3 linked regions of the Homo sapiens genome follow. The protein of the gene in region 2 interacts with the protein of the main gene of each other region in a biochemical or structural test. Each region holds a gene or a part of one and is shown on either strand. Other genes may lie near its edges. The genes, in order: ESR2, CCNC and HACE1.

Region 1 (3,656 bases), on a different chromosome or scaffold from region 2:
AACCAAGATACAGCATCATGTCCCATTTTCTGTTAAGTTTCATATAGTTTTAGTAACCCTTCCTTCCACCGCTATTGCCAAAAATGCTATATAGTACATGCATTAGAATGTGTTAAAGCAGATCGGGCATGGTGGCTCACGCCTGTAATCCCAGCGCTTTGGGAAGCTGAGGTGGGCAGATCGCCTGAGGTCAGGAGTTCAAGACCAGCCTGGCCAACATGGTGAAACCACTTCTCTACTAAAAATAGAAAAATTAGCCTGGCATGGTGGTGGACACCTGTGATCCCAACTACTTGAGAGGCTGAGGCAGCAGGATCACTTGAATCCGGTAGGCGGAGGTTGCAGTGAGCCAAGATTGCACCTCTGCACTCCAGCCTGAGCAACAGAGAGAGACTCCATCTCAGAAAAAAAACAAAAAACAAAACAAAACAAAACAAAAAAAAACAAAAGAGTGAGTTAAAGCATGTGAAAATAAACTTGGCACATTTCTAAGAATTTTATCACCTGTCCAGAAAGCTCCAGATATAATTGGTCACTATAGGTACAAAAAACAGCAGGACAACTTAAGATTATAACCTGAAAATGGAATTTTTAATGGAGAAAAATCTGTGTCGACTTATACACATAGTGGCCACATACCTACGGGATACAGTCCCCTATTAAAGCGCTGGCCTGTAAATGCTGCTGCACCACAGATTAAAAATGAGTCACAGGACCCTGAATCCTTGGACCCAACTCTCTCCTTCTCTGGTTCTTGACCCAGTGAAGGAGCTGATGATGCTATCATCCTCTGCCCTGCAAGTGTGAGATTTTAATTGCAGCACCCAGGACTTTGTTCCCACTCACTAAGCACCTTACTCAAACAAGTCAGAGAAGAAACACAATGTATTTTTTCTCACCTGTCCAGAACAAGATCTGGAGCAAAGATGAGCTTGCCGGGGTGGTCAATTGAGCGCCACATCAGCCCCATCATTAACACCTCCATCCAACAGCTCTCCAAGAGCCGCACTTGGTCGAACAGGCTGAGCTCCACAAAGCCTGGGGAAAGCAAGAGGCGGTGAGACACCCCCACCCCTCCTCCTCAGCTCCCTGTGTGTGTAGAGACAGAATGGCAAGTGTTAAAACACTAAGAAAACACAAACCATTAGGGAGTTGATATTTTATAGATGTGATTAACTGCTCATTAAAGGAAGAAAACTTTGAAGTTAAGCTGCGCAACTTAGTTTCCAGTCTTGGACCCCTTCTAGAGACAAATATACTTCATTTAGAGTTTGTCAAGCACTACGACCTCGGCTCAGAACTGATCTTTGTTAGCTGTGTCCTGATAATTCCTCTGCACTACTGAGAATGTTGATGCTTGGCTGCCAGTCAGAAGACCTGCCTGTCTGACCCAATCCTTGACTGGGATCAGAAGGGGTGGGGGATGGGGTAGGTGGGGGATGGGGTAGGTGGAGGTTGGGGTTGGAGGCTTGCAGAGAGCAGTGCCAGCCCTCACAGAAAACCAAGGCCTCAACTGCAAGGATTTCTCTGATTGATTAAAATTTCCTATCCAGTGTTAAGATCCTTCTTCTGGGTAGAAGCACTGTTTCTGGGTGATTCTATCCTAAACAGCAAATATAGCCAAGCACACCTGTAATCCCAGCACTTTGGGAGGTCAAGGTGGGTGGATTGCCTGCACCCAGGAGTTTGAGACCAGCCTGGCCAACATGGAGAAACCCCATCTCTACAGAAAATTATCTGGTCATGGTGGCAGGTGCCTGTAGTCCCAGATACTCTGGAGGCTGAAGTGGGATGATCGCCTGAGCCCAGGAGGTCGAGGCTGTAGTGAGCTGAGATCACGCCACTGCACTCCAGCCTGGGCAACAGAGCGAGACCCTGTCTCAAAAATAAATAAATAAATAAATAAATAAAGAGCAAATATAATAACGAAGCAGGTCCTGACAACCTAATAACCCATGTTGGTCACAGTACTGTTTGCAAACAGGTAATCTCTGGGGAGGGAAGCACTTCAAAAGCAAAGCAGAGAACACCGGGGCTTCCTTCACAAGCCATGATAAAAAGAGAGGGCCATGTAATATAAATATGATAACAAAAGACACCGCCTTGGAGTGAAATGGACTCTGGTTCGAACCCCAGCTCAGCCTCTTTCTAGCTGTTCACTTAATCTCCCATTAAGTCTTTGTTTTTCTTATAGGAAAATGGGGGTAACAATGCCTATCTCTGAGAATGTCTTATAGGCAGGATCTCTTATCATTCTTGTTTTACAGATGAGGAAACTACAGCAGAGAGAACACACATGGTTCAAGTCTTTGAACAATTATAACGCAAATCTGCCTCAAGGAGAATGTAATGGTGTTATGAATGTAAAGATGGATAAATACTTTCTAAATCCACATGCTTTGCTCAGTTTAGGTTCCTAATGTGTATATACCTTCCCAGTCTCACCCATAGTGATTGACAATAAGCCTACCCAAGAGAGATCACGGTTCTTAATCTTGTAGATATTCAACAAGATCAAGGCTAGATGATATTTTAATATATATTTTTTGGTTTGGACAATGACTATGCCAGCTAAGAGAGGAGAAAAAAAATCACGCCTTCAGATTATGTCTACGTTTCCTGAAAACTTTTCAAAACACCAGGCTTGAATAAGGAATAATGCAGTTTAAGAGTTCAGATTTCTTATGGCACAAAGAAGGTGCACAGCTTTCAGCAATAATTAATTTCACCACTGCTCTCCATGTGTGGTCCTGCAAAATCGTGTTTGGAATACATTTAAAGCAAAAACTAGAGGAAAGTGCATCAGTATTGCCTCCCCTGGGAAAAAGCAGAGAAAATAAAATAATTCTGGCAAAGGTGAAGATGCTAGACAAAACAAAATACAACTAGAAACCAAAAATCCTCAGGAAGCTCAGAAGAAATGGGCCCAGGCCAACAAAAGTCCCCAAATGATACTGTCACCATAGGCCTCAGTTCCCCAGGCTCTTTACCCAAAACTTCTCTTCCCCCAGCTTCTCACCCCTCCTCATCTTTACAGCTTGCCCAGTGCAGTCGCTGCCCTCCAGGCCATGGGAATGCCCCCAGTGGCTCAGAACTTATAAGAGACTTCATTTCTTCAAGGACTGTAAAGAACAGCATGGAGAAGCTGTCACAGGGGGATCGTGGGGTGTTGCCACTCTAGGTTAGAATCCTAGATTCACTCCTCCACAGAAACACCAAGTCAAATGATAATTAGCTGGTAATTTTAGCATCATACAGCACTTCAGATATATATTACAAATGGGCTTGAGAGAAGTGATCACTTTGGAGGATGGAAAACGCAGGTTCCAAGTGACAACTCATGAGTAACTAAGCTCATTTTTAACTTGATGGCATTCCAGGTTTATGGGCCCATTGATGATTCGTGTAACTTCAACCACTGATTTACTCTGTTTGTCCATACATATTCATTTATGTACATAATATTGATTCTCTACTGGAACAATAATTTACAAAATTCTATTTAGCATCTGACAAACCTTTCACTTTCAAACTAGTCATACTGTACTCTACCCCACCCCTCCTTTCAAGGTGAGGAATCCACAGCCAAGAAATGGGTCAATGTGGAGTCTATCATTTTAACCACGTTCCAGGTTCCAGGACTCTAGGATTCTTGC
Region 2 (3,656 bases):
AAACCCTCTTAGCACAGGTGATTCATTTTTAGCAAAAATATATTCTTATGTGCCATGGACCTTAGGGTCACTTAAAAACCAAAATTCTTTATCTTTACAATATCAGATCATTCATTGAAATTTTTGAAAATTGCTACTGAAATTTATAAAACAGGACAATAGCCAGCAGTGAAAAAAAAAAAAAAAAAAGATGGCACAGAATCAAACTGACATGAAACTACTATAGTTCTGAATTCTGCCCTGAATTTCAGATGAACTTACCTAATTCTGTCAGCTTTAAATTTATGGTATATGACCATATGTTGAGAGATACCTGTAATATACCTCCACTGCATTAGGAAAAGTTACTAATCAGATTAGTGATTTTTTTAAATGAGACATTCTCAATCAAATCACAAATTTAAAAAATAAAATTAACATGGATCATGAAGTTTTGGAAGAAATGTTTTAAAAACTACAAAACAACATAATCTAAGAAAAATATAGTAAGTATGATATATGATTAAATGACATCAATAATTAAAGTCTACAAAGTACCTGTTTGGAGGTGGTTTTGGTTTTGGCATCTTACTAAGAATGGTTGCCATCTCTTTTCTCTCATCGAAATTCTTCCACTGCTCATATAGTTTTAAAATAACCCTGATTATTTCCAAAATCTAGAAGAAAATATTTGAAAAGTTCTCAGTGGCAAAAACAAGCAACATTTTTTATATAAAGAGCATACATCACTACACAACCCTCAGAAAACAGTAAATAGTCTCTGTCCTTAAATCCTGATAAATTTGAAAGCAGTATTTTTCACCACAGTGCTGTTTAGGATTTTCCTTCTAGCATCTCATTTTTCAGCATGTGTGCATTGTCCATTCTTATCTATCTCTGCAGCTGATTTCCTTCCATCTGATGGTATCTTTTAAACTGAAACATACTAAGAATAAAGGTTCTAATCATGAGGGAATATACCACTATAGAGCACACTCCTCTAGTATAAATTATTTTAAACAACTTAATCGGGGGTAGTGCACAAAAGATGTTTTGATTCTCTGTTACTACACATACATTAAGGTGCTCAAAAACTGGCAGCTACAAATTTGAAACAACTAGTTAACAAATTAGCTATTTTTTTCCCACCTGAGTAGAACCTAACCTTAGGATTAATTTTAATGCATTTAACACTTGAGCAGAAAAGCTAGAAACACAGCAAAAGCCATTCTGCCAGGAGATAGGCTATGTTACAGAAGTTCACAGTAGTATTCAGTGGTTACCAGGGAGCTTTTAAAATAATCCTGGGAATGAGAGGCTACTTTGCAACCAATTAAACCAAAAGTTTACCATTCTGTTTAATCCTAAACTGAAAAGAGATACATAACTTAAATAATCAGCATTAACTCTTCCTACCAAACTTTTTTTTTTTTTAAACGGAGTCTCGCTCTGTTGCCCAGGCTCGCGTGCAGTGGCACGATCTTGGCTCACTGCAACCTCTGCCTCCCAGGTTCAAGCAATTCTGTCTCAGCCTCCCGAGTAGCTGGGAGTACAGGTGCATGCCACCACACCCAGCTAATTTTTGTATTTTCAGTAGAGACGGGGTTTCACCATATTGGTCAGGCTGGTCTTGAACTCCTGACCTCAGGTGATCCGCCCACCTAGGCCTCCCAAAGTGCTGGGATTACAGACACAAACCACCATGCCCAGCCCATGTTTCTTAATATTTTGTAACCAATAATCTTCTTAGCCTGGTGGACATCACAAGATTTTAGGCTCATGATAAGTAAATATGACATTAATTTTTAAACATCCAAGTTTACATACAACTAAGGGAATACCTTTTCCATATCCACAGAAAGCTCAGCAAACCATTGCCTGGCATCTTTCTGCTGTACAACACAGGCTACATGTAGGCAAGCTGAAATGAAAATGAGAGACAACTGTCCATGTTTAACTGCAAACACAGAATATATGATCTAACAAAGATTTTTCACTATTTCCTGTGTATTTTCCAACACTCTTTAAAAAACATTAAACAGCTACATATGAGAGTTACCACTGACCATCTCATCAATGTAATCCGAGACAGAAAAAATTACTAGATTACATCAAGTTCTTGACATCTGGTCCTCACTGCGTGCTAGTCATGGTGCAGTTGCCTTGAGAGTCAGGCACGTTAAAGAGGAAAAACATCCAATGAGGAGAGCAGAAAAGGGAAGTTATCCCTGAGTAGTGTACAAAGTAGCCGTTAAACTGCACCCAGAAGTCAGTGTGACAAAACAAAACAAACAAAAATGTTAATTAATATACTAGGTTTTAACAATGTTGACTGTGTTTCCACATTTCAGTTAAAAGCAGTGTTGCCTGGCCTTTTTTCTTCCTTTTCATTATTAGCACATGATCAAGTTATGTGAAAGCTGGGCACATCCTTACAGAATTCAGTGTTGTAATCAAATAAAGGTTAGAAAATAAATGTAATATACTGTATACAATATTAGTTATATATGTTATATACAATATAAACTAACAAAAGAGAGGAATCTACATCATAATTTTGCCTAAAACAATTTCTACTGAGCAGCCTGTATACCCTTAACCCACTCCAGCTTAAGTTATACTCCGTGGTCTGGTTATCCATGTCTTTGCTAAGGATGACATTCTAGGCAAATAGCAACTCAAATGTGAACTGACACACTGGTTGCCCTAAGTCAAGCAAAGCTATGAGTAGGGCTTAGGTCAAGAAGAGGTTAAAAAAAACCAAATGACTGACATGATAAAAACAGGAAATTAAAATACAGTGGACAATGCTATTAACATGGGCATGCATAGAGTACACTGAAGATTGAGGAAGCATCCTAAACCCAGACTGAGGTGATGCTGAAAGGGTGGGGGAGGGTCACTGAAGAGCTGATATCTAAGCCAAGTCTTACAAAAAAAAAAAATGAGAGTGGGAGAAGAGAATAGTATGTATATCAATTGGGAGACGAATTTGGCTAGCTCCGGGTTTCTCAATCTTGGCACTACTGACATCTTAGGTTGAACAATTCTTTGACACTGTCTTGAATACTACAAGATGCTTGGCAGCATCCCTGGCTTCTACCCACTAGATGCTAGTAGCACCCTACCCTAGTTATGACAACTAAAACCAAACATTGCCAAATGTCCCCTCGGGGCAAAATTATCCCCAGGTGAAACCACTAGCCTAGCTCAACAGTTTGGAAGATAGACAGGCTCTCTGAGGATGGGAGTGCTGGAGGCTAATAAGCCAGTTAGGAGACTGCTGTGGTAACATGGATAGAAATGAGAAGATGACTATGAGATTACAGAAGGAACAATCGAGAGGAAGGCACAAAATGTACTGGTAAACAACTACATGTGGGTATTGAGGGAGATGAAAGGGCCTAACTGCTGGGTTTCCAACTAAGGTATATAACTAGTGCTATTCACCAAACTGGCAAAGACATTAAAAGGAGGAACATATTTTGGGGCAAAGTGATAAGCTCAATCCTCATCATGAGTCTGAGGTGCTGGTGGGATGCCAAGCGGAGCTATGTAAAAGGAAGATGGATATAAAGAACTGCCAAGTGGCAAGATCTTGGCTAAATAAAGAGATTTAAATGTTTCGGCATGTAAGTGATAGTAGAAGCCATGAATCTCAGTTAAAGTACCCAAGA
Region 3 (3,656 bases), 5.2 Mb from region 2:
CCCTGCCTTAGTCTCCCAAAGCACTGGAATACAATTGTTACTAGATCTTTCCACTTTGTCATATATATCTGAAAGGAGTGACAAACCTCACCAGATATAGTATTCACAGATAAGAATCATGTTTATGGTTCTCTTATCAAAGGCAATCATTGCTTAATAAAGATTCTATGACTTCATTACCCTTAATTGAGGGTAGGCCTCCAGTGTAAAATAAAATAATAAACATGCTACAAGGTGAACAATCTAAAAAAAGATTCTAAAAATATTTTCACTCACTGGCAAATCATATAGGTTTAAAAATTAAGTGTTTAACTATTATAATCTTCTAGAGCTTAACATGACTTACATTAAAAATCAAGTAAGTTCTTCCTCGACACAATTAATTTTGCATATAGTATGAAGAACATTAGACTTGAAATTAGGAGGCTTGGGTTTTGGCCCCAGTTTTGCCATTAACTCTTTAGGATTAGTGTCATTTCATGTAAAATGAGAGGGTAGAATTTAAAATTTCTAAGTATGAATATGTAAGAACTCAACTCCTGACTTTATTTCCAAGAATTCAATCTCTTTTTTTTGTACACTATAGTATCTTAAGTTTCAAAAGGTAAAATTATGTCGCTTGCTAATAAGTTTCCAATTCCCTTTATATATCTGAAACTAAGAACCTATTTTTATAGAAAACTACCCAATACAACTAACTTTTGTGCTGTGCTTTTCATTTTACAAAATGCTAATAACAATTCTGTATGGGAGGTATTATTATTCCAATTCTACAGAAAACTGAGTTCGAAGAATTGTTAAACATAACCCTTTTTAAAATAATCCACATTTTACTAAATCTATAGTTTAAAAAATGGCTCAGTGAACATTGTTTCTTATAGTTAAATTGATTCTGAAGATGTCTTGGAATTATAATTCAGCTAAACAAAAAGGGAGGGGGGCAGTTTAGTATTGTTCAACCAGAAGCTGCTACTTGTAAGCAACAGAACTAGAATTCATATGATATTTTCTAACTCCAAATACCTCATATAACATATTAAAACACCAAGCCATATTAAATCTTAAAGTCATATTATGACTTTGAACAGTGAAATTTAAAACATATGCAAAGATTTTTAAATAATACATATAGAGGAGAGGTAATAATAAATAAAAATAAGGCCGAGAGTGGTGGCTCATACCTGTAATCCCAGCACTTTGGGAGGCCGAGGCAGACAGATCACCTGAGGTCAGGAGTTTGAGACCATCCTGGCCAACATGGTGAAACCCCGTCTCTACTAAAAATACAAAAATTATCTGGGCATGGTGGCGCACCCCTGTAATCCCAGCTACTGAGGAGGCCAAGGCAGGAGAATTGCTCGAACCCAGGAGGCAGAGGTTGCAGTGAGCCGAGATCATACCACTGCGCTCCAGCCTGGGTGACAGAGTGAGACTTCGTCTCAATAAATAAATAAATAAATAATCAAGTTATACAGTCAAAAAAATATCAAAAGGTCGAACAAACTTACTGGATCCCAAAAGTATGTGGAAAGCTTAAACACTGGCATTTCTTTTCTCTATTAGAATTCTTTAATATTACACTTTAAAAACATGAAAGAGCAATTTTTGCAAATATCTTCATTTAAGCTTATATTTCTAATCAAATTTCTCAAAATGCATATGCCCAATTTATACTATCAGCTGAAGTGCTCTCGATTTTTTAGGAACCAACTCAGCACAGCTAGCACAATTATCAAAATAATCCTTTCTAATTCAAAATTTAACATTTGATTGTTTTATTAACTTAAACGTTTTATCTGCTATGATACTGTAATAGTAAAAGTTTTTCTACAAGTGCCAGAAGAATTTAGAGTAACTAGCAAACTATCAGGGCCAAGTTACAAACAATGGTTAAGGTAAAAACTGAAATACTCACTTTATTATTTTGTGTCACAAGAATACTCCCACCCCCAGGTTTCAAAGGCACCTCTTCCATTGCTCCAAACACATCAGTCTCAACAGAAAAAGTTAGTTCTAGACCCAGATCACTTATATCATTATCTAAAATCCATTGCAAATTTTTCGCATATTCTGGATCAATGGATGCCACATCTTGGTAATTTACAGGAATACCTAAAAAATGCAAACATACAGCAGTTATAGTCTGGTTTTGCCTTCCCTTATCTATTTAATGGTAAAATACTGCCCTCTACAGATATTCTGAAAAACTGCAAAATATAATACAATCCTACACACAGCATATTTTAAATGGATTCCTGAATTTGAAAGTCTGTTAAATTAATTCTGTGTTTCTTTCACATTGTTACAATGTAATCTTTCTTTGAAATAACTATTCAGGAAGTTATTATAAACTTCAAAAATGCCAATTATCTTAAGTATACTCACACTGAAATGTATTCTTAGCATAAAAATACACACACAAAAATTGAAAAAAAAAAAAAAAGGCTAACTTAACTAGAGGTGTTTGGAAAAAAAAAAGGTAGGTCATTTTTTTCTCCTTCAAACCCCGAATGGCTTACATATACAGATGGGCTCCAATCAAAATAAAAATTATCTCATCCAAAATACTACTGCTTATCTAGTTTTCCTCAAACTGAAAAAAAAACAATATAAATAAATGTCTGCAGAAATAATAATAGAGCCATACCAAGAATGTGCTTGTAGAAGGATCGTGTGAAGTAAATATTGACCAGCTGCCTGTGGTTCAACGCTAATCCCAAGATCTGCCCAGCAAACCGAAAATAGTTCAAGTGATCAGGATTTACATAAGAGTTGCTATTAGGCTGAAAAGTTGTTCCTATTGAAATAAATACAAAATAATATATTATTAAGAATCTATATGCAGAAGAAAGATTACTTCGATGCAGATAAACTAATTCACATACAACTTCAGCAAAGCTAAGGTTACATTATGTATAAACTTCCAGAGAAATGTTCTTTGTGGAAAATATAACAAGTGGTAAGTAGAATTGGAAGTATAGATGATAATCATTTATTCATACATATTTGTCACAGTAATCTATGGCAGAGAGAAAATTTTAGAGTACTTTTGACTGAAATTAGTTGGAAGATCATCAGAGACACTCTGGAAATAATACAGCAGAGGATCATATACACATACACATACACACACACACACGCACATATACACAGTTTCCTAGGCAGTATGGCAATAGGCTGTTCGCTAGGACAGACATTATCCCATTCATCTGTATGTGCCAGTGCAGTAAGTATTTGCTAGTTTTTGCTGCTTCAGGAGTAGAACACTATGAGAATAACTAAAAACTGTAAATGTACAACTGCTCTTAAGTGACAGGCCTAGTCAATGAACTTGATGCCTGTTAACAATGATTAGAAAATCACCTCAGTCCACAAGGTAACCAAGTCTTTCTAATGGCAAACAATTAAGTTTAAACAATTACCTCTGAGGTGAAAGTAAAAATGGCAAGGGCAATAAGTTACCAATTACTATGAAAATCCAGTGCAATGGAATATGAATCCACTTTTATAAAATATCTAGAATAGGCAAATTTATAGATAGGTAAAGTAGATTAGTAGTTACCTAAGGCTGAGGAAAGGGGATATGGGAGATATTGCTTAACGGGTACAGAATTTCTGCTTGGGGTGATGAAAAAGCTCTGAAAATAGATAGTGGC

What was found.
Region 1: the proteins of CCNC (region 2) and ESR2 form a complex in vitro, tested with the Homo sapiens proteins (one study listed by BioGRID).
Region 3: the proteins of CCNC (region 2) and HACE1 form a complex in vitro, tested with the Homo sapiens proteins (one study listed by BioGRID).

The regions. Positions count from the first base shown.
Region 1 is NC_000014.9:64,256,327-64,259,982, forward strand, and holds part of ESR2 (estrogen receptor beta), read right to left. Parts: intron 1,090-3,656; exon of another isoform or gene 1,039-1,089; coding exon 900-1,038; intron 1-899.
Region 2 is NC_000006.12:99,544,575-99,548,230, forward strand, and holds part of CCNC (cyclin-C), read right to left. Parts: intron 1,901-3,656; coding exon 1,821-1,900; intron 657-1,820; coding exon 538-656; intron 1-537. UniProt on the Homo sapiens protein: Component of the Mediator complex, a coactivator involved in regulated gene transcription of nearly all RNA polymerase II-dependent genes.
Region 3 is NC_000006.12:104,769,278-104,772,933, forward strand, and holds part of HACE1 (E3 ubiquitin-protein ligase HACE1), read right to left. Parts: intron 2,798-3,656; coding exon 2,648-2,797; intron 2,113-2,647; coding exon 1,916-2,112; intron 1-1,915. UniProt on the Homo sapiens protein: E3 ubiquitin-protein ligase involved in Golgi membrane fusion and regulation of small GTPases. Acts as a regulator of Golgi membrane dynamics during the cell cycle: recruited to Golgi membrane by Rab proteins and regulates postmitotic Golgi membrane fusion.